Linked DNA regions of Homo sapiens: region 1 is linked to region 2. Evidence: fine-mapped expression QTL. A gene starts in region 2. The other region holds a variant in brackets. All regions are shown on one strand. Distances are between the middles of the regions. Region 1 has its middle 34 kb from the start of WFDC3. Region 2 holds the start of DNTTIP1 (deoxynucleotidyltransferase terminal interacting protein 1).

Evidence for each region. PIP is the estimated chance that this variant, and not a neighbour inherited with it, causes the effect.
Region 1: its variant is the best candidate, but not a certain one, in a credible set for the expression of DNTTIP1 in subcutaneous fat (TwinsUK, PIP 0.52).

Annotation. Positions count from the first base shown.
Region 1 is chr20:45,753,847-45,761,975 of GRCh38, forward strand. No RefSeq gene overlaps it. Among named protein-coding and RNA genes, the nearest start is that of WFDC3, 34 kb to the right of the region's middle. The variant C/CA (reference allele first, on the strand shown) is at 3,410.
Region 2 is chr20:45,787,579-45,795,707 of GRCh38, forward strand. It overlaps DNTTIP1 (deoxynucleotidyltransferase terminal interacting protein 1), which reads left to right and starts at 4,376. Exons shown (of 13, transcript NM_052951.3): 1 at 4,376-4,531; 2 at 5,099-5,169; 3 at 6,343-6,439; 4 at 7,767-7,865. The coding sequence starts at 4,427. It overlaps WFDC3 (WAP four-disulfide core domain 3), which reads right to left and starts at 4,305. Exons shown (of 7, transcript NM_080614.2): 1 at 4,254-4,305; 2 at 2,316-2,404; 3 at 1,353-1,481; 4 at 258-404. The coding sequence starts at 2,397. RefSeq lists silencers at 4,459-4,728, 4,939-5,078.

The sequences.
Region 1 (8,129 bases), 34 kb before region 2:
AAAATGAAGACCAAATAAATAAAATCAGGGATGAAAAAGGACACATTACAACTGATACCGCAGAAATACAAAGAATCACTAGAGACTTTTTTTTTCCCCTGAGATGGAGTTTTGCTCTTGTTGCCCAGGCTGGAGTGCAATGGCACGATCTCAGCTCACTGCAACCTCCACCTCCCGGGTTCAAGCGATTCTCCTGCCTTAGCCTCCTGAGTAGCTGGGATTACAGGCATGTGCCACCACACCCAGCTAATTTTATATTTTTAGTAGAGACAGGGTTTCTCCATGTTGGTCAGGCTGGTCTTGAACTCCCGACCTCAGGTGATCCACTCGCCTCAGGCTTCCAAAGTGCTAGGATTACAGGCGTGAGCCACCGCATCCGGCCTGGATCATTAGAGGCTATTATGGAAAACTACACACCAACAAATTGGAAAACTAAAAAGATAAATTATTTGACACATACAACTTACCAAAATTGAATCATAAAGAAACAGAAAACTTAAACAGGCCAACTATGAGTAATGAGATGAAAGCAGAAATTAAACGTATCTCTTTAAAGAAAAGCATAGGACCTGATGGTTTTACTGCTGAATTCTACCAAATATTTGAAGAAGAATTAATACAAATTCTACTCAAATTATTCTAAAAAATTGAAGAGGGAATACTTCCAAACTCATTCTACAAGGCAAGAAGTACCCTGTGGCCAGGCATGGTGGCTCACGCCTGTAATCCCAGCACTTTGGGAGACTAAGAGACCAAGGCAGGTGGATGACTTGAGGCGAGGAGTTCAAGACCAGCCTGGCCAACATGGCGAAACCCTGTCTGTACTAAAAATACAAAAATTAGCCAGGGAGGTGGCGCATGCCTGTAATCCTAGCTACTCAGGAGGCCAAGGCATAAGGATCGCTTGAACCCAGGAGGTGGAGGCTGCAATGAGCCAAGATCGTGCCACTACACTCCAGCCTGGGCAACAGGGCGAGACTCTGTCTCAAAAAAAAGATCATTCACCATGATCAAATGGGATTCATCCCCAGATGCAAGGATAGTTCAACATATACAAATCAATAAGCGTAATACACCCCATCGACAGAATCAAAAGAGCCATATGATCATTTCAGTAGATTGTGAAAGAGCATTTGATAAAATTCAACATCCCTTCATGATAAAATTCTCAAGAAATTGGATATAGAAAGAACATACCTCAATGCAATAAAGGCCATAAGTGACAAGCACATAGCTAATACCATACGGAATGGGGAAAAACGGAAAGCCCTTTCCACTAAGGTCTGAAACAAGATAATGATGCCACTTTCACCACTGTTATTCAACATAGTACTAGAAATCCTAGCCAGAGCAATTAGGCAAGAGAAAGAAATAAAGGGCATCCAAATTGGAAAGGAAGAAGTCAAATTAGCCTTGGAAACACATGACATGATCTTATTTTTAGAAAAACCTACCCCACCAAAAAATTCTTAGAACTAATCAACAAATTTAGTTTAATTGCAGGATACAAAATCTACATACAAAAATCAGTAGTGTTTCTATATGCTAACAATAATCAATCTGAAAAAGAAACCAATAAAGCAATCTCCTTTACAATAGCTACAAAAAAAAAAAACCTAGGACAAAATTAATTAGAAGATCTCCACAAGGAAAACTATAAAATACTAATGAAAGAAACTGAAGAGTACACCAAAAAATGGAAAGATATCCCATGCTCATAGGTCAGAAGAATTAATATTGTTAAAATGCCCATAATATCCAAAGTGACCTTCAGATTCAATACAATCTCTATTAAAATATCAATGGCATTCTTCACATAAACAGGAAAAAAAAATTCTAAAATTTGTATGGAACGACAAAAGACCCCGAATAGCTAAAGCAATCCTGGGCAAAAACAACAAAGCTGGAGGTATCACACTACCTGAATTCAAATTATACAACAAAGCTATAGTAACCAAAACAAAGCTATAGTAACCAAAACAGCATGGTATTGGCACAAAAACAGACACATAGACCAATGGAACAGAATAGAAAACCCAGAAATCAATGCATGCACATATAGACAACTCTTTTTTTTTTTTTTTTTTTTTTTTTGTGAGACGGAGTCTTGCTCGGTCACCCTGGCTGGAGTGCAGTGGCGTGAACTCAGCTCACTGCAAGCTCTGCCTCCCGGGTTCACGCCATTTTCCTGCCTCAGCCTCCTCAGCAGCTGGGACTACAGGCGCACGCCGCTATGCCCGGCTAATTTTTTTGAGACAACTCATTTTTGACAAAGGTGCCAAGAACATATATTGGGGAAAGGACAGTCTTGTTAATAATTGGTGCCGAGAAAGCGGGATATCTATATGCAGAAGAATGAAACTAGATTGCAATCTTTTACCATATGCAAAAATCAAATAAAAATTGATTAAATACTGAAATCTAATGCCTGAAACTACAAAACTAGAAGAAAACATTAGTCAGGACATTGGTCTTGGGAAAGATTTTCTGGGTAAGACCTCAAAAGCAAAAGCAACAGAAGAAAAAACAAACAAATGGGATTACATCATTAAAAAGTTTCTACAGCCAGGCGCGGTGGGTCACGCCTGTAATCTCAGCACTTTGGGAGGCTGAGGCAGGTGGATCACCTGAGGTCAGGAGTTCAAGACCAGCCTGGCCAACATGGTGAAACCCCATCTCTACTTAAAATACAAAAAATTAGCTGGGTGTGGTGGTACACAACTATAATCCCAGCTACTTGGGAGGCTGAGGCAGGACAGTCGCTTGAACCTGGGAGGTGGAGGTTGCAGTGAGCCGAGATCATGACATTGCACTCCAGACTGGGGGAAAAAAGCAAGACTTCATCTCAAAAAAAAAAAAAAAAAAATTTCTGCATGGCAAAGGCCAGTTGCCTTTAATCCCCTATAATCCCCACACTTTGGAGGCCAAGGCAGGCAGATCACCTGAACCTGAGGTGGAGAGTTTGAGACCAATCTGGGCAACATGGTGAAACCCTGTCTCCACTAAAAATATAAAAATCAGCCAGATGTGGTGGTGCACACCTGTAATCCCAGCTACTCGGGAGGCTGAGGCACAAGAATCACTTGAACCCAGGAAGTGGAGGTTTCAGTGAGCCATGATTGCAGCACTGCATTCCAGCATGGGCGACAGCGTGAGACCCTGTCTCAAAAAAGAAAAGACAAGCTACAGGATGGAAGAAAATATTTCCAAACTACCTCATCAACAAGGGACTAGGCTATGCACAGTGGCTCACACCTATAATCCCAGCACTTTGGGAGACAGAGGCAGCAAGATCACTTGAGGCCAAGAATTTGAGACCAGTCCGGGCATCATAGCAAGACTCTGTCTCTACAAAAAAAAGGCAACAACAGGAATTAAAAATATATAAGAAACTCAAACAACTCAATAC[C/CA]AAAAAAAAAAAAAAAAAAAAATCTGGCTGGCACAGTAGTTCTCGCCTGTAGTCCCAGCACAAGGCCAAGGCAGGTGGATCACTTGAGGCCAGGAGTTTGAGACCAGCCTGGCCAACATGGCGAAACCCTGTCTGTACTAAAAATACAAAAATTAGCCAGATGTGGTGGTGCATGTCTGTAATCCCTGCTACTTGGGAGGCTGAGGCAGGAGAATCATTTGAACCCAGGAGGCAGAGGGCAGAGTTTGCAGTGAGACGAGACTGGGCCACTGCACTCCAGTCTGGGCAACAGAGCAAGACTCTGTGTCAAAAACATATATATATATATGCGTATATATACGCATATATATACATATAAGTATGCATATATATATGTGTATATATATGCATATGTATGTATATATATCTGTATATATATGCATATGTATGTATATATATCTGTATATATATGCATATATACATGTATATATATATCTGTATATATATGCATATATACATGCATATATATGTGTATATACATACAGATATATATATACACACACATATATACATATATCTCAAATAAAGAGACATTCTTGGGCAAAGGGGATTTGTCCCAGTGGTCTTGACAGTGCCACAAATCATTTTAACACTTTTGGGTATAGCCAGAACCATCCTAGTGGTCTGAAACACAAAAGTGAGGCCCAGACTACTTAGGGAGATCAGGCTGGGTGCCAGAAATTAAAAGGATAGGAGCCAGAGACAGGTAAGCAGAAAGTTTACAAGAAAAAAAAATGGAAGATGAACAAAGACCCTAGGCCTCTGCCAGGTGGGCTGTGAGAGAAGAGGTTTCAAAAGAGGAAGAACTTAAGATGACATTCTTACAGACAGACCCCTGGCCATTGCAGAAGCATTTCTGGGCTCCTTGGCGCCCCCCAGTCCAGGAGGCACTGCAGGACACAGGAGGCCTTGGAGCTCATGGGCACCAGAGCCCAGGCTTCCATGTAGCTGAGATACGATCTGGCACTGCAGTCCTCAAGGTCTTGCAGGGGCCCTCTGACCCCCGGTTCCAGCCCTGGGACACAATTGCCCTGCTACATGCTTCCTTTCTATAATTAAAGAAGGAAACCCTCAGGGCACCCCACTCCACCACTCACCTCTCGCCAGGGACCAGGTACCAGGGTGGGTGTCCTCTTCCTGAAAAAGAAAGGCTTAGATGAAGCAGTCCCTTGTGAAACAGGCAGCCATTAGCACCAGGGCCCAGCCTAGGTGAGAACTCTCAGGCCCTGCCTGGCAGCCCACAGCCAGGCATGGTTGAGATACCAAGTTACTCTACAGATGTCTTTGTTTTTTGTTTTTTTTGAGTCAGAGTCTCACTCTGTTGCCCAGGCTGGAGTGCAGTAGCGTGATCTCGGCTCACCGCAACCTCTGCCTCCCAGGTTCAAGCAATTCTCCTGCCTCAGCCTCCAGAGTAGCTGGAATTACAGGCGCCCACCACCAAGCCCAGCTAATTTTTGTGGGGGTTTTTTGGGGTTTTTTTGTTTGTTTGTTTTTGAGACAGAGTCTGGCTCTGTCACCCAGGCTGGAGTGCAGTGGCGCAATCTCGGCTCACTGCAAGCTCCGCCTCCCGGCTTCACGCCACTCTCCTGCCTCAGCCTCCTGAGTAGCTAAGACTACAGGCACCCACCACCACACCTGGCTAATTTTTTTTTTGTAATTTTTGTAGAGACAGGGTTTCACCTTGTTAGCCAGGATAGTCTCAATCTCCTGACCTCGTGATCCACCCACCTCAGCCTCCCAAAGTGCTGGGATTACAGGCTTGAGCCACCGCACCCGGCCAATTTTTGTATTTTTAGTAGAGACGGGGTTTCACCATGTTGGCCAGGCTAGTCTCAAACTCCTGACCTCAGGTGATCCACCCGCCTCAGCCTCCCAAAGTGCTGGGATTACAGACATGAGCCACCGTACCCAGCCTGCATTTTTTTTTAAGCATTAGGTTGGTGAAAAAATATTTTGATTTTTTTTAAAACAAGCAAGCATTACTTTTGTGATCTTTTAAAACTGATTGGATGAAAAAATGGAAAATGTAACATAAGAAGTGTCAGACCTCTGAGCCCAAGCTAAGCCATCATATCCCCTGTGACCTGCACATACACATCCAGATGGCCGGTTCCTGCCTTAACTGATGACATTCCACCACAAAAGAAGTGAAAATGGCCTGTTCCTGCCTTAACTGATGACATTGTCTTGTGAAATTCCTTTTCCTGGCTCATCCTGTCTCAAAAAGCTCCCCTACTGAGCACCTTGTGACCCACCCCCCAACTCTGCCCTCCAGAGAACAACTCCCCTTTGACTGTAATTTTCCTTTATCTACCCAAATCCCATAAAACGGCCCCACCCTTATCTCCCTTCACTGACTCTCTTTTCAGACTCAGCCCGCCTGCACCCAGGTGAAATAAACAGCCACGTTGCTCACACAAAGCCTGTTTGGTGGTCTCTTCACACGGACGCGCATGAAATTTGGTGCCGTGACTCGGATTGGGGGACCTCCCTTGGGAGATCAATCCCCTGTCCTCCTGCTCTTTGCTCCGTGAGAAAGATCCACCTATGACCTCAGGTCCTCAGACCGACCAGCCCAAGAAACATCTCACCAATTTTAAATTGGGTAAGCAGCCTCTTTTTACTCTCTCCTCCAACCTCCCTCACTATCCCTCAACCTCTTTCTCCTTTCAATCTTGGTGCCACACTTCAATCTCTCCCTTCTCTTAATTTCAATTCCTTTCATTTTCTGGTAGAGACAAAGGAGACACGTTTTATCTGTGGACCCAAAACTCCGGCGCCGGTCGCAGACTAGGGAAGGCAGCCTTCGCTTGGTGTTTAATCATTGCAGGGATGCCTCTCTGATTATTCACCCAGGTTTCAGAGGTGTCAGACCACGCAGGGACACCTGCCTTGGTCCTTCACCCTTAGTGGCAAGTCCCGCTTTTCTGGGGAAGGGTAAGTACCCCAACCCATTCTCTCTGTGTCTCTACCTCTTCTTTGCCTTTCTGGGGGGCAAGAAACCCCCAACCCCTTCTCCTTCACCCTTAGCGGCAAGTCCTGCTTTTCTAGGGGAGGGGCAAGTACCCCAACCCCTTATATCTCTGCACCCCGATCCCTTATTTCCACGCCCCAACCCCTTATATCTCTGTGCCCCAATCCCTTATTTCCACGCCCCAACCCCTTATATCTCTGCTCCCCGATCCCTTATTTCCGTACCCCAACCTCTTATATCTCTGCACCCGATCCCTTATTTCCACACCCCAACCTCTTATATCTCTGTGCCCCGATCCCTTATTTCCACACCCTGACCTCGTATCTCTGTGCCCCAACCCCTTTCCCACTTTTCTGGAGGGTAAGAACCCCCGAACCCCTTCCCTCCGTGTCTCTACTCTCTCTTTTCTCTGGGCTTGCCTCCTTCACTATGGGCAACATTCCACCCTCCATTCCTCCTCCTCCTTCTCCCTTCCTGTGTTCTTAAGAACTTAAAACCTCTTTAACTTTCACCTGACCTAAAATCTAAGCACCTTATTTTCTTCTGCAACACCACTTGACCCCAATACAAACTTGACAATGGCTCTAAATGGCCAGAAAACAGCACTTTCGATTTCTCCATCCTACAAGACCTAAATAATTTTTGTGGAAAAATGGGCATTTTTCACACTTCGTTCCCTCCCTAGTCTCTGTTCCCAATACGATTCCTCCCAAATCCTCCTTCTTTCCCTCCCGCCTGTCCCCTCAGTCCCAACCCCAAGCGTTGCTGAGTCTTTCCAGTCTTCCTTTTTTCTACAGACCCATCTGACCTTTCTCCTCCTCCCCAGGCTGCTCGTCGCCAGGCCAAGCTAAGTCCCAATTCTTCCTCAGCCTCCGCTCCTCCACACTATAATCCTTCTACCACCTCCCCTCCTCACACCCGGTCCAGCTTACAGTTTAGTTCTGCAACTAATTCTTCCCCACCTGCCCAGCAATTTCCTCTTAGAGAGGTGGCTGGAGCTGAAGGCATAGTCAGGGTACATGTACCTTTTTCTCTATCAGACCTCTCTCAGATCAGTCAGCATTTAGGCTCTTTCTCATCAGACCCCACTAAACATATACAGGAATTCCAATATCTAACTCTGTCCTACAATTTAACCTGAAGTGACTTAAATGTCATCCTGACTTCTACCCTCTCCCCAGATGAACAGGAAAGAGTTTTTTCTCTAGCCCAATTTCACACTGATAACCGCCGGCTTCGTGAACCTGACCTCCAGGAAGGCAGTAGAGCAGTTCCCCGAGAGGACCCCCAATGGAACTATAAGGCAGATTCCCCAGGTACAGCTAGGCGAGATTACATGGTTTCCTGCCTAGTTGAAGGGCTTAAAAAGGCAGCTTACAAAGCTGTTAATTATGACAAGCTTAAAGAAACTACCCGAGGTAAAGATGAAAACCCAGCCCAGGTCGTGGCCCGCTTAGCAGCAACCCTTACACACTTTACCGCCCTAGACCCAGAGGGGCCAGAAGGCCGCCTTATTCTTAATATGCATTTTATCACCCAATCCACTCCTGACATTAGGAAAAAACTTCGAAAATTAGAATCGGGCCCTCAAACCCCACAACAGGAATTAATCAACCTCGCCTTCAAGGTGTACAGTAATAGAGAGGAAGCAGCCAGACGGCAACGCATTTCTGAGTTACAATTACTTGCCTCTGCTGTGAGACAAAA
Region 2 (8,129 bases):
CCACACCTGGCTACTCAACCGTTTTCAAAGCAGTCTGCAAATGAGGGTAAGTTGAGGCTGCCCTTCTGGCACCCTCCCTCTGCCTGCCCAGGCTACATACCACAAATGATTATGGCTTGTGCACCCTTTGTATATCTTTTTTTTTTAAGGTCTTAGAATATAGCAGCAAAGTAAAACCAACAAGCTGATATGTGCATATTTGAGAAATAAACAAGCAGACCAAACAGACCATGAGGTGTGGGGACAGCGTTTCTTACCCAGCTTCTGTTTAGAGATTGGGACTACACAGCTCTTGTTGCAGCCAAGCGTGCAGCATTTCTTTACACCTGGACATGTCTCATCAGTGATGCACCTTTTCAAACAGGATTGTTTCCGAATAACCCTAGGGCAATCTCTTTTCCTCCCTGTAGCAAAAAGGGAGACAGCAAAGAAAAGAGAAAATAGGCCGAGCGCCATGGCTCACACCTGTAATCCCAGCACTTTGGGAGGCCAAGGCGGGTGGATCACCTGAGGTAGGGAGTTCGAGAACAGCCTGGCCAACATGGAGAAACCCCATCTCTACTAAAAATACAAAATTAGTCGGGGGTGGTGGCACATGCCTGTAAATCCCAGCTACTTGGGAGGCTGAGGCAGGAGAATCACTTGAACCCGGGAGGCAGAGGTTGCGGTGAGCCGAGATCACGCCACTGCATTCTAGTCTGAGCAACAAGAGCGAAACTCCGTCTCAAAAAAAAAAGAGAGAGAGAGAGAGAAAATAGTGCCTGGCAACACCCACGGGCACAGCAGAAGGGAAAAACAGAAAAAGGAAGTCCTGAGATTTATTTAAGCCTCTCAACCCTGGTGCTAAGACAAAGAGACAATAATAACAACAATAGTAATAGCAAATATTTACTGTAACATTTACTGACGTTTACCTTGTGCCATGAACATCTTATTTGATCCTCACAATTATCCCCATTTTATAGATGAGGAAACTGAGGCTAAAAGCTTAAGATTTATAAAGAGCTAAGGCTTAAGGCTTAAAAAGGTCTGCTTGGCTCTAGGGTCTACTCTCTTAATCATTATCTTACACAGCCTTCCCTTTACAACTCTTCCCTCCAGCCTTCACAGGAACTTTGAGTCCAAAGTAAAAGACATAGATAATCAATGGTGCGCTCTTTCCTGATGGAAGGCAAACAACTGGGGGCACTGAATAATTAAAGGAGGAGGGACCCTAAAAGAGTAAAGAAGAAGTACTCTAGGCAAGGGAGACTTCCAGAGGCAACCTAGAAGGTGGGAAGCTCTCTACTTCCATCTATCCCAGAGGCAATGTCAGAGAGTATGCCCAGATTTTGCCCCTCATGCCAACATACCCTTAGGAATGTCTCGGCAGATCCGACCACAGCCTGTGGTGCAGCACTTCTGTTCAGCCGGACACAATTCATCACCCTGGCACAGCTCTTTGCATGGGTTCTTATGGGGAGGGCATTCTCCCTCTTTTGCTGCAAAAGATACTATTTGAGTTTGGGGTAACTAGCCAGGCCTCAGAAATGGGGAATGGACCTTCAGCCCCTCCAGGCATCTCTATCCAAAATATTTCTGCACCACTGCACTCTAGCCTGGGTGACAGAATGAGACCCTGTCTCTTAAAAAAAAAAAAAAATTCTGGCTGGGCACGATAGCTCATGCCTGTAATCCCAGCACTTTGGGAGGCCGAGGCGGGCGGATCATGAGGTCAGGAGATCGAGATCATCCTGGCTAACACAGTGAAACCCCATCTCTACTAAAAATACAAAAAATTAGCTGGGCGTGGCGGCGGGCACCTGTAGTCCCAGCTACTCGGGAGGCTGAGGCAGGAGAATGGCGTGAACCTGGGAGGTGGAGTTTGCAGTGAGCTGAGATCACGCCACTGCACTCCAGCCTGGGTGACAGAGTGAGACTCCATCTCAAAAAAAAAAAAAAAATTCTGCAACCACCTTCCCCTCCTCATACACAAATACTAACATATATCCACCACTGCTAAAGGAGCAGCCATCCTGCAGATAACGAGAGAGAAAGGGTGGGATGATCCTGTTCTCATTTAATGAGTTCTAGGGAAAAGCTAGAACCTCTAGTAAGCCCAACTGGAAGTCCTATCTCCTTGTCCAGAGAGGGTAAAGAAAGCCAGGAAGAATGACCCAGGCCATCCTGAGAATCTATTCATCCAGTCCTGTCCTATAGAGATGATCATCTCCACTTACAAGCAACCTTGCTCTGGGAGAAGGCAGGGGATGAGTTCTCCTCTCCTCTAGTCACTTTCTGTTACTGTTGGCCAGGGATCCCAAATGATAGCTCACCATGTTCTCCTGCAGTTATCCAGGATTCCAGAGACCCAAGAGCAAGAAGTGCCTTCAGAAGAAAGAGGCAGCTTAACATCATGATGATGCTGAGAGTTGGGACAAGAGCTCAGTTCAGGCTAGAGGTGTACACCTTGCCCAGAGTATCAGCTGAGGTATGAGCAGGACTAGGGATGGCCCCAAACCCAGTCCCAAAACCTTCCCTTTCACAATACTCCCCAAGAATATCTTCTCCTGACAAGAAGAAGAGGGATTGGCTGCTGGAGTGTGGGAAAATTCCTGGCACTACCAAAGGGGACCTGTGATGGGAGGATCAAATTCTGTAAGCAATATACACAATATTCCTGGATGATGAGAAACCTAGTGGGTGGCTGGAAAAATGGAGGGGTGGCCATTGGAAAAAGAATCAAAGAGAGCCCTAAAGGGCATTGGAAGGACATGGCTTTAGCCCAAATAACAGAGGGAGGGATTCACGACACTACTTAATGGCCAAAGCTAATAACATAACCAAGCATAATAAAATTGTGGCTCCTGTTCATCCTAGCAACCAAGAAAATACAGAATGGAACAGACCACTCAGAAACTATCAAATAGGCCAAGGCGGGCAGATCACCTGAGGTCAGGAGTTTGAGACCAGCCTGGCCAACATGGCGAAACCCTGTCTCTACTAAAAATACAAAAATCAGCTGGGCATGCTGGTGCATGCCTGTAATCCCAGCTACGTGGGAGGCTGAGGCAGGAGAATAGCTTGAACCCAGGAGGCAGAGGTTGCAGTGAGTGGAGATCATGCCACTGCACTCCAGCTTGGGTAACAGAGTGAGACTCTGTCTCAAAAAAAAAAAAAAGAGAGAAAAGAAACTATCAAAAACCTACAGAAAAGCAGTAGTTGAGTTTGTTAAGAACTAATGAAAAGCACCAAACACCTACATCTTTGTCCCTCTAACCCACACAGGCCATTCTTGGACTGTATGAAGTCTAGCTGGCAGAACCCAAGAGAAGTTGCTATGTATGACTCAAATAGTCTGCCCACATATACCTCCTTTATTTCTTTTTTCTCCATTTCTTTTTTTCTTTATCTGTCCTGGTCATGCCTTTGGTTAGCTGTGATACCTAATGGTGTCCACTGGCACTGCTTAGTCCTATGGGCAGGTACAAGGTAAAACCTCCTTAATAGGATCAAAAAGTTTGGAGCCAGGAAGTCGCCCTTATGGTTAGAAGGCTGATGTTGGCTCATGGAGATAATTAACATTTGATGATGACCTCATATGTGCCTAATATGCTTTTTTTTTTTTTTTTTTTTTTTTTTTTGAGACAGAGTCTCCCTCTGTCCCCCAGGCTGGAATGCAGTGGCGCGATCTCGGCATAATTAACATTTGATGATGACCTAACATGTGCCTAATGTGCTTTTTTTTTTTTTTTTTTTGAGACAGTCTCCCTCTGTCGCCCAGGCTGGAGTGCAGTGGCGTGATCTCGGCTCACTGCAACCTCCGCCTCCTGGGTTCAAGAGACTCTCCTGCCTCAGCCTCCCGAGTAGCTGGGATTACAGGTGCCCACCACCACGCCCGGCTAATTTTTATATTTTTAGTAGAGACGGGGTTTCGCCATGTTGGCCAGGCTGGTCTCGAACTCCTGATGGCAAGTGATCCTCCCGCCTCGGCCTCCCAAAGTGCTGGGATTACAGGCGTGAGCCACCGCCCCTGGCCGAGCATATTAAAATCTAGTTTTCAAAAACTGAACTGCAGGCGCCGCTGTACCAAACGCTTCCCTCTGCTCCCCAACCCCAGCCTACAGAAAACTGGTCCCTTCCTCCTACCCCGCAGTCATCCCCAGGCCTTGGCCCAGCGGGAAACATCCCTTGACTGAACCGCCACTGAACACCCACACTGCACAATCGAGGCGCAGCCCTCCCGAGAGGAAGCCCCAACGACCTCCACCTACAAGGCCTCTAAGTGTAACTGTCCTGGGCGAGGCGCGGCGGTTCGGTTCCCATGGTAACCCCGCAGCTCCAGCGTCGCGCTTCCGGGCGGACGAGCAGCGCGCTCCAGTGACGTCACGGCGCCACTTTCCGGCCGGTGACAGAGTCCAGCGGAGTTGTGGGGGCCGGGGGCGCCATGGGAGCCACTGGCGACGCCGAGCAGCCGCGGGGACCTAGCGGGGCCGAGAGGGGCGGCTTGGAGCTGGGGGATGCGGGCGCAGCGGGGCAGCTGGTTCTTACGGTGAGGGCGCCCCCGGTGAGGTCTGGGCTCAGGCCGGGCACGGCCTCGGGGCTCCTGGGACCCTGGCCCGCGGGCGAGAGAACGCGGAGGCTGGAGCTGCAGAGGGGGTTGGCGTTTTCGCAGCCCGACGACCTGGATTTAAATTCTGGTGCCGCCCTCCTAGCTAGGTGACGTGGGCCATCTCTGTCAACCCCCTGAGTCCCAGGATCCTCTTCTATAAAATGGAAATGATTAGTACCTGTCTCATAAAACTTGTTGTGGGATGGGAAGATAAAGGCGGGTACAACGCCCCGGACATCACCTGACACAGAGTTGACCCTCGGTAAATACTGCTTCCCTTCCTCCTGCCGTGCCAGAAGGCAGGGTCGGGACTTTTAAGGCAGGAAACTTCCTCAGTTCCTCTTTTGTGGAGGAGGCCTTACAACTATCGTCCCACCCCAAGGCGGGAGAGATGGTGACGGATCTGAGAAGCAGGGATGTCCAGGTTTAACTTCATACCCACCCTCCACCTCCACCCCACCCCAGTGTCACAGGCCGCAGTGACATTTGTTCCGTTGGTCCCCACAGAACCCTTGGAACATAATGATAAAGCACCGGCAGGTGCAGCGGAGGGGCCGCCGCTCACAGATGACAACAAGGTAAGGCTGGCCCTGCATGGGGCTTATATCCCAGCCACTGGCTTGCATGGCAGATTTGGGATCCCCAGTGCACAAGGCTATGGAGATCTACAGCCGGTAGAAAGAGCACAGGACTGAGGAAGAGGAGACTCCGATTCTGTAACTCTGTGTGATCTTGAACTAGTCAAGTCACTTCCTTCTCTGAACTCACGTACAAAATGGGGAAGGGCACAGGAGATGGGTTGTGGAATAAACAATACCTAAGATCCCTCACATTCACTGGCTCTGTGGTTGAGGGCTCTAAAGAGGTCAGTTAGCATGGAGTTTAAGAGAACAGGCTCTGGAGTCAGACAACTGTGTTCTCATCAACAGACTCTGATGAGCCCGTTTTCTCAACTATAAAGAGGGATTAATAGTATGCATGTCAGGGAAGGGAGAGAGCACAAGGTGGGCCTTTGGGATGCTGATAGTGGTGAAATGGATGTTCACTATAATTACTCATTAAAGTGTATAGACTTTTCTGTATAAGTATTATATTTCATAAAAACACTTTGGGCCGGGCGCGGTGGCTCACGCCTGTAATCCCAGCACTTTGGGAGGCTGAGGTGGGTGGATCACCTGAGGTCGGGACTTCCAGAACAGCCTGACCAACATGGAGAAACCCCGTCTCTACTAAAAATAACAAAAAATTGGCCGGGCGCGGTGGCTCACGCCTGTAATCCCAGCACTTTGGGAGTCTGAGGCGGGCAGATCACCTGAGGTTGGGAGTTCGAGACCAGCCTGACCAAAATGGAGAAACCCGGTCTCTACTAAAAATACAAAAATTAGCCGGGCGTGGTGGTGCACACCTGTAATCCCAGCTACTAAGGAGGCTGAGGCAGGAGAATTGCTTGAACCCAGGAGGCAGAGGTTGCAGTGAGCCAAAACCACGCCACTGCACTCCAGCCTGGGCAACAGAGTGAGACTCCGTCTCAAAAAAAAAAACTTTGAAAATAATATGCACTTCATAGAGTTATTATGAGAAAGAAATAAAGTCATGCCTCTGTGATTTGCACAAAATCTGAGCATGTAGCTAGTTTTCAATAAAAGCTGTCTAGTATTGTTAAGGAATTCTATGTCCATAATTAACTGGGGAGGCTGGGAAAGAATATGTTTGGGACATGCCCCCTCACCCTGTCTCCCTCCTGAATGCAGTTTCACAGATCCTGCCATCTCCATGGATCTCCTCCGAGCTGTCCTGCAGCCCAGCATCAACGAGGAGATCCAGACTGTCTTCAACAAGTACATGAAGGTGAGAGGGACACAGGATAAAAAATAACAGGAGAAAGACTCATGAGGAGCCCAGTCCTTGCCTGCATCACCAGTCTGTCTCTTTCCTACATACAGATATCTAAAGTTTTCCTTTCTTGTTGTTTTTGTTTTGTTTTGTTTTGTGTTTTTGAGACAGATTCTCACTCTGTCACCCAGGCTGGAGTGCAGTGGCACAATATCGATTCACCGCAACCTCCACTTCCCAGGTTCCAGCGATTCTCATGCCTCAGCCTCCCTAGTGGCTGGGATTACAGGTGCCCACCACCTTGCAGGGCTAATTTTTGTATTTTTAGTAGAGACGGGGTTTCACTGTTGGCCAGGCTGGTCTCGAACTCCTGACCTCAAATGATTTGCCTGCCTTGGCCTCCCAAAGTGCTGGGATTATAGGTGTGAGCCAGGGCACCTGGTCAGTTTTCAAATTTTTAATCCCCCAAGAATTTTATTCCCTCCTTGAGGGTAATTCAGATACCTTTTTTTTTTAAAATCTGCCCTTGTCACGCACGTGGTTTTTTTTGCTGACCTCTTATAAGGATGAAGTGACTTAAATGTACTGTGCTGAGCACTGTGCTCCAGACATAACAAGTGTCCAATAAGTATTCTTATTAGTTGTTTAATAATATAACCATTATTGGGGCCATGCACAGTGGCTCACACCTGCAACCCCAGCACTTTGGGAGGCCGAGGCAGGATCACTTGAGGCCAGGAGTTTGAGAACAGCCTGGGCAACACAGTGGGACCTCATCTCTACTAAAAAAAAAAAAAAATTTTTTTTTTTTTTTTTGAGACAGAGTCTCACTCTGTCGCCAGGCTGGAGTGCAGTGGCACGGTCTTGGCTCACTGCAACCTCCGCCTCCTGGGTTCAAGCAGTTCTCTGCCCCAGCCTCCCAAGTAGCTGGGATTACAGGCATCCGCCACCACGCCCAGCTAATTTTTTGTATTTTTAGTAGAGACGGGGTTTCACCGTGTTAGCCAGGATGGTCTCGATCTCCTGACCTCGTGATCCGCCCACCTCGGCCTCGCAAAGTGCTGGGATTACAGGTGTGAGCCACCGCGCCCGTCCTGATTTTTTGCACTATTTACACCTCAATCTGTTGGGCACCCCCACGATTATATCCGTAAGAGGGGGAATAAAGGGAGGAGGTCAAGCCTGAAATGTGAATCTAAATCTGGCTGATCCCAAAGCCCTGCTCATAATCACTTTTCCCTTCTGTATGAAGCTAGGATAAAGACTTATTTTATATTCAGTTTCCTTCAGGTTGATGCACATTAACAGGACTCTGACCTTGTCCTCTGTTGTGCTCCCCTAGTTCTTCCAGAAGGCAGCACTGAACGTGCGAGACAATGTTGGGGAGGAGGTGGACGCAGAGCAGCTGATCCAGGAAGCCTGTCGGAGCTGCCTGGAGCAGGTGAGACCAAAGGGGACAAGAGATGCAGGCACAAGGTTTAGCTCTCGAGCCTCTGATAAGAAATGCGATCTTAAGCCGGACGTGGTGGCTCACACATGTAATCCCAGCACTGTGGGAGGCCAAGGTGGGCAGATCACTCAAGGCCAGGAGTTTGAGACCAGCTTGGGCAACGTGGCTAAACCCCATCTCTACAAACAATACGAAAATTAGCTGGGCATGGTGGTGCACGCCTATAATCCTAGCTGCTTGGGAGCCATAGGCACG